Homo sapiens: one gene and its partner. The protein of the gene in region 2 interacts with the protein of the main gene of each other region in a pairwise test. Each region holds a gene or a part of one and is shown on either strand. Other genes may lie near its edges.

Region 1 (3,885 bases), on a different chromosome or scaffold from region 2:
TTCCAGCTGAGCTTAGCTTCTAGAATGGTGTAGGTTTTGAACATCCTGTAAATTGCATTTGTTTTCCTCTCAGCAGTTGCTGAGCAAGTAAATGTTCCAGTAAGATTTTTCAAATGGGCTGGGCCTAGCGGCTCACTGCTGGAATCCCAGCACTTTGGGAGGCCAAGGTGGGAGTATCACTTGAGCCCAGGAGTTTTAGACCAGCCTGGGCAACATAGAGAGACCTCATCTCTACAAAAAAATAAAAAAATTAGCCAGGCATGATGGCGTGCCTCCGTAGTTCCAGCTACTTGGGAGGCTAAGGAAGGAGTGTTGCTTGAGTCCAAAAGGGTGAAGCTGCAGTGAGCCATAGTTGCACCAATGTACTTTAGCCTGAGTGACAGAGGTTTTTTTCCCCGTTTCAAGGGGAAAAAAAATTTCAAACGACTTAAGACAAAATAAAAAAGATAAGACATAACCCAATGAGTATTGCTACACTCCTCTTTCTGCTACATTTCGAGATAGTTTGTGATCAATGTATTTAGAAAATTAAATTACATTTATAGTAACAGGTATGATTAATATATAGCAAAATGCCATGTTCTGTTTCAGTTTGATACAAATCTATTGTTGAAGTTATTTTGTTAATCATTAATAATATTAAATATATATCTCTTTTTTTAACCCCTTCATGCTCTTTAATGAAACAAGATCCAGTTGTTAAACCTAAAACAGAAAAAGAAAAGCTGAAGGAACTCTTCCCAGTCCTTTGCCAACCGGACAACCCTTCTGTTCGGGTACTGATACCATTTTAAGAGTGTCTACTATAAATATATATTCTCAACCCCTTTTCTTTGTCTCATAGTAATTTTATTAATTTTAAGTTTGCCTTTGTTGTAACTTATTTTTAAGAATGAAAGTGTTTGATCACTCCCTGAGCATGTACTATGTATTGAATTTGTTAAGGGGTTCTGAGAATGATATTCAAGGGAAATGAGATTGGGAATTTGGGGAAGTAGTGATTAGGAATATGAAATAAGGTTCTGGAACAGATGCCTAAGGTGTGAAATTAGATTTTTTTTTTTTGCTCTGTTACTTGTTAAAGGTCTAATTTTTAAAGCATTTTGATTTTTAAATTTCATTTTAATAAATATTTATTGAGTACTTACTGTATGCCAAACACTGTTCTAAGTACCTGGATAACAGCAGTGAACAGAACAGACAAGAGTTTCAGCCTTTGGAGATTATATCCTAATTTTGGGGTAGGGAGCAGGAAATAAACATGTAAACATTCTGGTGGGGAGGAGATAGGCAATAAACAAACAAATAGGTATGTAACATAGCAGATAGCAATAAGGGCTATTTAAAAAAATAAAGCTGGAGTGGGGGTAGGGAGGAAGAGTGCAGAGGGAGAGTTGCTTTTTAAAATTTTTAACACCTGTTTTCTATTAATATAATCATCACTTGCATTCTTTCATGGCAGGGATGATTAATATCTAACTGCCTTTCATAGAATTCTATTAAGGACAGAGGGGATTTGTCAAATGTAGCAGTAATTCTCAAGAGCCTTTTTTCCATTTCTTCTGCATCTATCCTGAATCAAGTTTGAAATCTCTGCCCCTCTTCTATTTCCCTCACATAGTGATTAGTGATTTATAGATGTACCTGAGGTACATACAGATTCTTGAGTAGTTTTTTTTCCTAACTTTGCCGGCCTCTACCTCTGCAGACCATGTTGGATGAAGATGATGTGAAAGTTGCTGTGGATGTCCTGAAAGAACTGGAAGCTTTAATGCCCAGCGCAGCAGGCCAGGAGAAGCAAAGAGATGCTGAACACCGGTTTGTCCTTAGTGTCCTGTCCTTTGGAAGTTTAGGGTACTGTGACAGTTGAATATTATGGACCAGCCAAGCAAAATTTTGGGCAAGTTTACAGAATCTGGACTGGTCATATATCATATTGTTGGATCTGTTTTCATTGCTTCCTGCTAAGTGTATGTAGCAAATGCTAGGTTGTTCAGAATATAGAAGTCAGGGTTGAAAGAGGCTGAATATGTTTGTGGCTCAATTCTTTATTGGCTTATAGGGATGTCGTAGTTATTGAAACTCTAATTCAGTTCAAAACCTAGTGGGTACCTACCATGTGCATGGCACTGTACTGGGTGCTTGGGGATGCGAAGATGAAATCGGATTGGTTTCTTTTTTAAACAGGTGCTTATTGATTTGTTAGGGACAGGACAAAGAAGAAGAAGCGGAGTCGAAGCCGAGATCGAAACCGAGATCGAGACAGAGATAGGGAACGAAACCGAGATAGAGACCACAAGCGGAGACACCGATCCCGCTCTCGATCACGTTCCAGGACCCGGGAGAGGAATAAAGTGAAGTCTAGATATCGGTCCAGGAGCAGGAGTCAGAGTCCCCCCAAAGACCGGAAGGACCGGGACAAATATGGAGAGCGGAATCTGGATAGATGGCGGGATAAGCATGTGGACCGCCCTCCTCCAGAAGAGCCCACCATTGGTGACATTTATAATGGCAAAGTTACCAGCATCATGCAGTTTGGTTGCTTTGTGCAGCTGGAAGGACTAAGGTAATGACTGGTGCTCTTTTGTTCACACCAGTGATGGGCAGAATTTCTTTTATCACTGAGGATGTTCACATTCTAAAAAGTTACTTTGATTAATGACACTTTAGTCAAATCAGCCATACATGGTTCTTAGAAATTGACTCTTTTGAAATGTTACAGAGCCATTTATTCCTTTCTCTGTCTTCAGGAGATCTGTCCTTTGCTTGTTGGGACAGATAGAATTTGCTTCCCCACCCCATGTCTCCCCATGAGGAGAGTGTTAATACTATTTTATTGTTTGACCACCTTCATGGTACTTTTCTCTTGAGTTTAAGACCATTTTCTTTTGTTAGTTCCAGTAAGGGTAGAAATTGGTTGGGGGAAAAATATTTTTTGGCATGTTCCAGATGTGTCTGGCTCTCCCTCAGGAAGCGGTGGGAAGGCCTGGTGCACATCTCTGAGCTCCGGCGGGAGGGTCGTGTGGCCAATGTAGCTGATGTCGTGAGCAAAGGCCAGAGGGTCAAAGTCAAAGTGCTGTCCTTCACTGGGACCAAGACCAGCCTGAGCATGAAGGTAGGTGAGATGGTCAGCCTGTTCTTACATGTGATGGCCAAGGGAATGGAAGAGGACAGCAAGTGAGACAGCTCCCTTGTTTTTGTGCCTTAGGATGTGGATCAAGAGACTGGAGAAGATCTAAACCCAAATAGACGGCGAAATCTTGTCGGGGAGACCAATGAGGAGACCTCAATGCGGAATCCTGATAGACCCACTCACTTGTCCCTTGTCAGTGCTCCTGAAGTAGAGGACGACTCACTGGAACGCAAGCGCCTCACCCGAATCTCTGACCCAGAGAAGTGGGAGATCAAACAGGTTGGGGCCTTTAGTTTTCATGACCAGATAGTCATTCAGCATGTAGCATGGTGCTTAGGGGTGTGCCCTGGAGCACGATGGCCTGGGATAACTTTTGGCCACTGTATTAGTCTGTTTTCACACTCCTGATAAAGACGTACCTGAGACTGGGCAATTTACTAAAGAAAGAGGTTTATTGGACTTAGAATTCCACTTGGTTGGGGAGGCCTCACAATTATGGAGGAAGGTGAAAGGCATATCTCACATGGCAGTAGACAAGAGAGCTTGTGCAGGGAAATGCCCTTTTTAAAACCATCAGATCTCATGAGACTTACTCACTATCGTGACAACAGCGTGGGAAAGAGCTGCCTCCATGATTCAGTTACCGTCCACTGGGTCCCTCCCACACACGTGGAAATTCAAGATGAGATTTGGGTGGGGACACAGCCAAACCATATCAGCCACTTATTAGCCGTGTAATCCTTAGCTAAGCT
Region 2 (5,612 bases):
TTATTTTTAAGGGATGGTAGTGGCCTATGCAAAACTAGCTGTGGAATAATGAATTTTAAAATAAGCAGCATTTAATAAAAATAGAACTATATTTTTTTTAAAATAGAAAAGCCAACTAGAAGGAGATATAACAAAATGCTAATAATGGTGAAAATACTGGCATCATTCTTCTCTGCCTCTCATACTTTTTCCTATGAAGTGTTGACTACCTTTCTAAAACACAAAATCAAAACCGACTAAAACTCCAGACTAACAGTTTCAAATTATATTCAGGAGGTTTGGCTGAAAGAAGGAGGAAAGGTGGGTGTGCCCTATTTGGATTCACACAAAAGTAGCTCCACTTTTCTCCTTTTTTTTTTTTGAGATGGAGTTTCGCTCTTGCTGTCCAGGCTGGAGTGCAATGGCACGATCTCGGCTCACCGCAACCTCCACCCCTCAGATTCAAGCAATTCTCCTGTCTCAGTCTCCTGAGTAGCTGGGAGTACAGGCATGCACCACCATGCCCAGCTAATTTTGTATGTTTAGTGGAGACGGGGTTTCTCCATGTTGGTCAAGCTGGTCTCTAACTCCCTACCTCAGGTGATCCGCCCACCTCAGCCTCCCAAAGTGCTGGGATTACAGGCATGAGCCACAGTGCTGGGCCTCACTTTTCTCCATTTTTACATTTAGGGTTTGGCCCAAGATTGTATTTGTTCTTTGGTTATCATTTGTTCAACTAATAAGTAACTGAAACATGACCTGATTCAATGAACTTCAGAGCCTGCCCCAATCGTTCTGGGAAACTTCAAATAGGGAAACTCCTTGTCCAGACTGACAGATTAGCACCTGCCAAAGGCAGAATCCTGCACCAGCCAATCCTGGGCACACTTTCCAGCCCCAATTGTATGGCATGGGCCTATGATTCTATCCCAGTTCTTAAGAATTCTCAGTTAAAATCTGGGAACAATAATTCCTACACTATAAGGCTGTTATGCAACTAAGAAAAAAAAGTAAGAGCAGTTAGCATATAGCATATCTACTCTTATGATTATTACCAATGAAAGGCTAAAACTGTCACAAACTTACTTACGTTCTTTTTCAAACAGCTCTCTAACACCAGGCAAATCTTTTGCTGCTCCAAAGTACTTGTAACCTCGGTTTCCTGGGACTTCTTTTCCTTCATGATCCAGCATTTTAGGGCCAACTTTCTTATTGGGAAGAAAAAAAGAGAAAATGGATCTGTTAGTTAGTTAGTTAGTTATTATTTATTTATTTATTTGAGGCGGAGTCTCGCTCTGTTGCCCATTTATTTATTTGAGGTGGAGTCTCGCTCTGTTGCCCAGGCTGGAGTGCAGTAGCACAATCTCACTGCAACCTCCACCTCCTGGGTTCAAGTGATTCTCCTGCCTCAGCCTCCTGAGTAGCTGGGATTACAGGTGCGTGCCACCACGCCTGGCTAATTTTTGTATTTTTAGTAGAGACGGGGTTTCACCATGTTGGTCAGGATGGTCTTGAACTCCTGACCTCATGATCCACCCACCTCGGCCTCCCAAAGTGCTGGGATTACAGGCGTGAGCCACTGCGCCTGGCAGATCTGATCTTTAAACCCACTATTTCCATGTTTGCAAATATATTTTAAGATAATAGCTGGATGCAGTGGCTCACACCTGTAATCCTAGCACTTTGGGAGGCCAAGGTAGGCGATCACTTCAGCTTAGGAGTTCAAGACCAGCCTGGGCAACATGGCAAAACCCTGTCTCTACTAAATATACAAAAATTAGCTGGGTGTGGTGAGACATGCCTGTAATCCCAGCTACTCAGGAGACTGGGGCAGGAAGAATTGCTTGAACCTGGGAGGTGGAGATTGCAGCGAGCCAAGATCGTGCCACTGTACTCCAGCCAGGGCTGGAGTAAATTAAATAAATAAATAAATAAATAAATAAATAAATAAATAAAAAACACTTATGGGCTGGGCACGGTGGCTCACACCTGTAATCCCAGCACTCTGGGACACCAAGGTGGGAAGATCACTTGAGGCCAGGAGTTCACGACCAGCATGGGCAACATGGCAAAACCCTGTCTCTACAAAAAAATGCAAAAATCAGCCAGGCATGGTGACACACACCTATCGTGCCACTGCATTCCAGCCTGGGTGACAGAGCAAGACCCTGTCTCAAAAAAAATAAATAAAACTAGGCCGGGCGCAGTGGCTCACGCCTGTAATCTCAGCACTTTGGGAGGCCGAGGTGGGCGGATCACGAGGTCAGGAGACCGAGACCATCCTGGCTAACATGGTGAAACCCCGTCTCTACTATAAATACAAAAAATTAGCTAGGCATGGTGGTGGGCGCCTGTAGTCCCAGCTACTCAGGAGGCTAAGGCAGGAGAACGGCATGAACCTGGGAGGCGGAGCTTGCAGTGAGCTGATATCACACCACTGCACTCCAGCCTGGGTGACAGAGCAAGACTCCGTCTCAAAAAAATAAAATAAAATAATTAAAAAATAAATAAATAAATAAAGATAAAAAACACGATGCTAAGTGACAAAACCTTTAAAAAGATTACAAACAACCTATATGACAATTAGTGGAAAACAAATGAAATATATCCAGAAGATACAACTATATCTATTAAAACTGATGATTTGCTGGGTGCGGTGGCTCACATCTGTAATCCCAGCACTTTGTGAGACCAAGGCGGGAAGATCACCTGAGGTCAGGAGTTCAAGACCAGCCTGGCCAACATGGTAAAATCCCATCTCTACTAAAAATACAAAAATTAGCAGGGTACGGTGGTGCACATCTGTAATTCCAGCTACTTGGGAGGCTGGAGCACAAGAATCACTTGAACCTGGGAGGCGGAGGTTAGGGTGAGCTGAGATCGCACGCCACTGCACTCCAGCCTGGACGACAGAGCGAGACTCTGTCTCGAAAAAAAAAAAAAAAAAGACGATTTGACAACTACATGTAGTATGTGACCCCAGATCAGGTCCTGTACTGCAGGGGAAATGCTACCAAGGACATTATTGGGAAAACTGATGAAATGCCACATGGATTCAATTATTGTAGCCAAGTTAAATTTCTTAAACTTGATAGCTCTACCATGGTTACATAAGAGAATATTCTTCTTAGGAAATACACATATATTAAAGGGTAAAGAAGCATGATGTATTGTAACCTACCTTTCAAGTGGTTCACAAAAAATAAATCTCAAGGTACACAAAGAAAATAAAGCAAATACAAGCAAAATGTTAAATACTGGTAAATCTGTATAAAGGGTATATAAAAGTTCTCTGTATATTTTTGCAATGCTCTTTGAGTTAAAAAACATTTTTTTAAATCATACAATTTGGCTGAGCACAGCGGCTCATGCCTGTAATCCCAGTACTTTGGGAGGCTGAGGCAGGATGACTGATTGACTCCAGGAGCTCAAGACCAGCCTGGGCAACATAATGGGACACCATTTCTACAAAAAATTTAAAAATTAGCTGGGCATGGCCAGGCACGGTAGCTCACACCTATAATCCCAGCACTTTGGGGAGCCAAGGCAGGTGGATCACCTGAGGTAGGGAGTTCGAGACCAGCCTGGCCAACATGGTGAAACCCTGTCTCTACTAAAAATACAAAAATTAGCTGGGCGTGGTGGTGGGCACCTGTAATCCCAGCTACTCTGGAGGCTGAGGCATGAGAATCGCTTGAACCCAGGAGGGGGAGGTTGCAGTGAGTCGAAATCACACTCCTGCACTCCAGCCTGGGTGACAGAGCGAGACTCCGTCGCAAAAACAAAAATTAGCTGAGCATGGTGGCACACACCTGTCATCTCAGCTGCTCAGGAGGCTGAGGTAAAAGGATTACTTGCACCTGGAGTCAAGGCTGCAGTGAGCCATGATCGTGCCACTGCACTCCAGCCTGGGGTGACAGAGTAAAATCTTGTCACAAAAACTAAGAGGCTGGGTGCAGTGGCTCACATCTGTAATTCCAGCAGTTTGGGAGACCAAGGCGGACAGATCACCAGAGGTCAGGAGTTCGAGACCAGCCTGGCCAACATGGTCAAACCCCAACTCTACTAAAATATAAAAATTAGCCAGGTGTGGTGGCGCACACCTATAATCTCAGCTGCTCTGGAGGCTGGGGCACAAGAATTGCTTGAACCCAGGAGGCAGAGGTTGCAGTGAGCCAAGATCGCACCACTGCACTCCAGCCTGGGTGATGAAGCGAGACTCTGTCTCAAAAAAAAAAAAAAAACTAAACTAGAATAAAATAAAACAATATACATATCTATCATATGATTATTTATTGACACGAAACTGTATTCCTTGTACAGTTTAGAGAATAAAGCACATAGAATATTAATGAATTTCTATAATGTATATACTAATATGTATTTTTTATATCTTATAATTTTTATATTTATATTTTTTCTCTGCACAAAAATATGTACTGTTTATATAATGAAAGCTACCATTTTGAAAAGAAAAACAAAATCCAGAACCAAAATTGTACATACAGTGAGTATGGTTTCAATTATGACATTCATACAAAAACAACGGAAGGAGAAAAAAGATAAAGAGCATATTCAAGTGGCTGCACTTATGTAATGGGATTGTGACTGAGTGTTGTTCTGCTTCTTTGTACTTTTCTGAACTTAGTGGTAATATATTACTTTTATATGTAGAAAATAAAAATAAAATTATTAAGCATTAAAAATCTCTGGAAAAAATATATAAAAATATTAATAGTGTTGAATTTGGGTGGTGGAACTTAACATTTCACATACGAATTTTTTCATACCTGAGACCACTTTTCTAGGTGGATTAATGAGCTGCTTTTAAGCTGCCTCACAGGAAAAATAAAATCTCCACCACACAACTGCTGAAGAGATCAGGCAAGGGCTCACTCTGGCAGGACATATACTAAAATCGGAATGATACAGAGAAGATTGGCATATAAAAATAAAAAACAGCAAAAATAAAATAAATGAAAAGAAAAAAAGAAGTTAGGCAAGACACCCAAGAGAAGTCTCCTAGTGCAGTGCCCAGACACAAAAGGTGCTTCAGAAATGGGAGTGCCTTTCCTCTTCTGCAGTGGGAAGGCTGAATACTCCATTTGTATGTACTAGGGTAAGAATTATGGTTATGTGTTAGACTTTCACAAGGTGAAAAGATCAACACGTAGAAAAACTGCATGTGTTTCTTATATAACACATTATAGTCCATTGATTACATACTGTTTCCAGTGATCTGAGGTAGGTCTCATCACAAAAGTGTGAACGAATTAGGCTCTGGGGCAGGAGTTTTCAAAACCAAGACCCATTAGTGCATCATGAAATCAGTTAAGCAGGTCACAAACATCAAATTTTTAAAAACCAAAATAGAACAGAATAAAAAATATACCATACTTATTGTTTTTTTCAGCACCTTTGTGTGCTGGCTTGTGATTGTGTGTGTGTGTGTCTGTGTGTGTTTTACAATGAGCCATGTTCTTAAAAGTTTGAAAGCTATGGTTCTAGAGTATTGCATTTATAGAAGTCCAAAAAAAGGACAGAATGTAGTGTCTCTATGGCTCTCAGATAACAAAGCCAACAAATAGCTGTCTCCAGTTCCTAAGGCACTTAAAGAATGTGAGGAACCATGC

What was found. The genes of interacting proteins can lie anywhere in the genome.
Region 1: the proteins of ISY1 (region 2) and DHX8 interact in binary tests that used the Homo sapiens proteins (3 or more experiments, as listed by UniProt).

Annotation. Positions count from the first base shown.
Region 1 is NC_000017.11:43,490,475-43,494,359, forward strand, and holds part of DHX8 (ATP-dependent RNA helicase DHX8), read left to right. Parts: intron 1-690; coding exon 691-776; intron 777-1,708; coding exon 1,709-1,818; exon of another isoform or gene 1,819-1,900; intron 1,901-2,187; exon of another isoform or gene 2,188-2,206; coding exon 2,207-2,566; intron 2,567-2,970; coding exon 2,971-3,115; intron 3,116-3,208; coding exon 3,209-3,412; intron 3,413-3,885.
Region 2 is NC_000003.12:129,139,299-129,144,910, forward strand, and holds part of ISY1 (pre-mRNA-splicing factor ISY1 homolog), read right to left. Parts: intron 1,188-5,612; coding exon 1,070-1,187; intron 1-1,069. Other genes in the region: ISY1-RAB43 protein, read right to left, coding at 1,070-1,187. UniProt on the Homo sapiens protein: Component of the spliceosome C complex required for the selective processing of microRNAs during embryonic stem cell differentiation. Required for the biogenesis of all miRNAs from the pri-miR-17-92 primary transcript except miR-92a.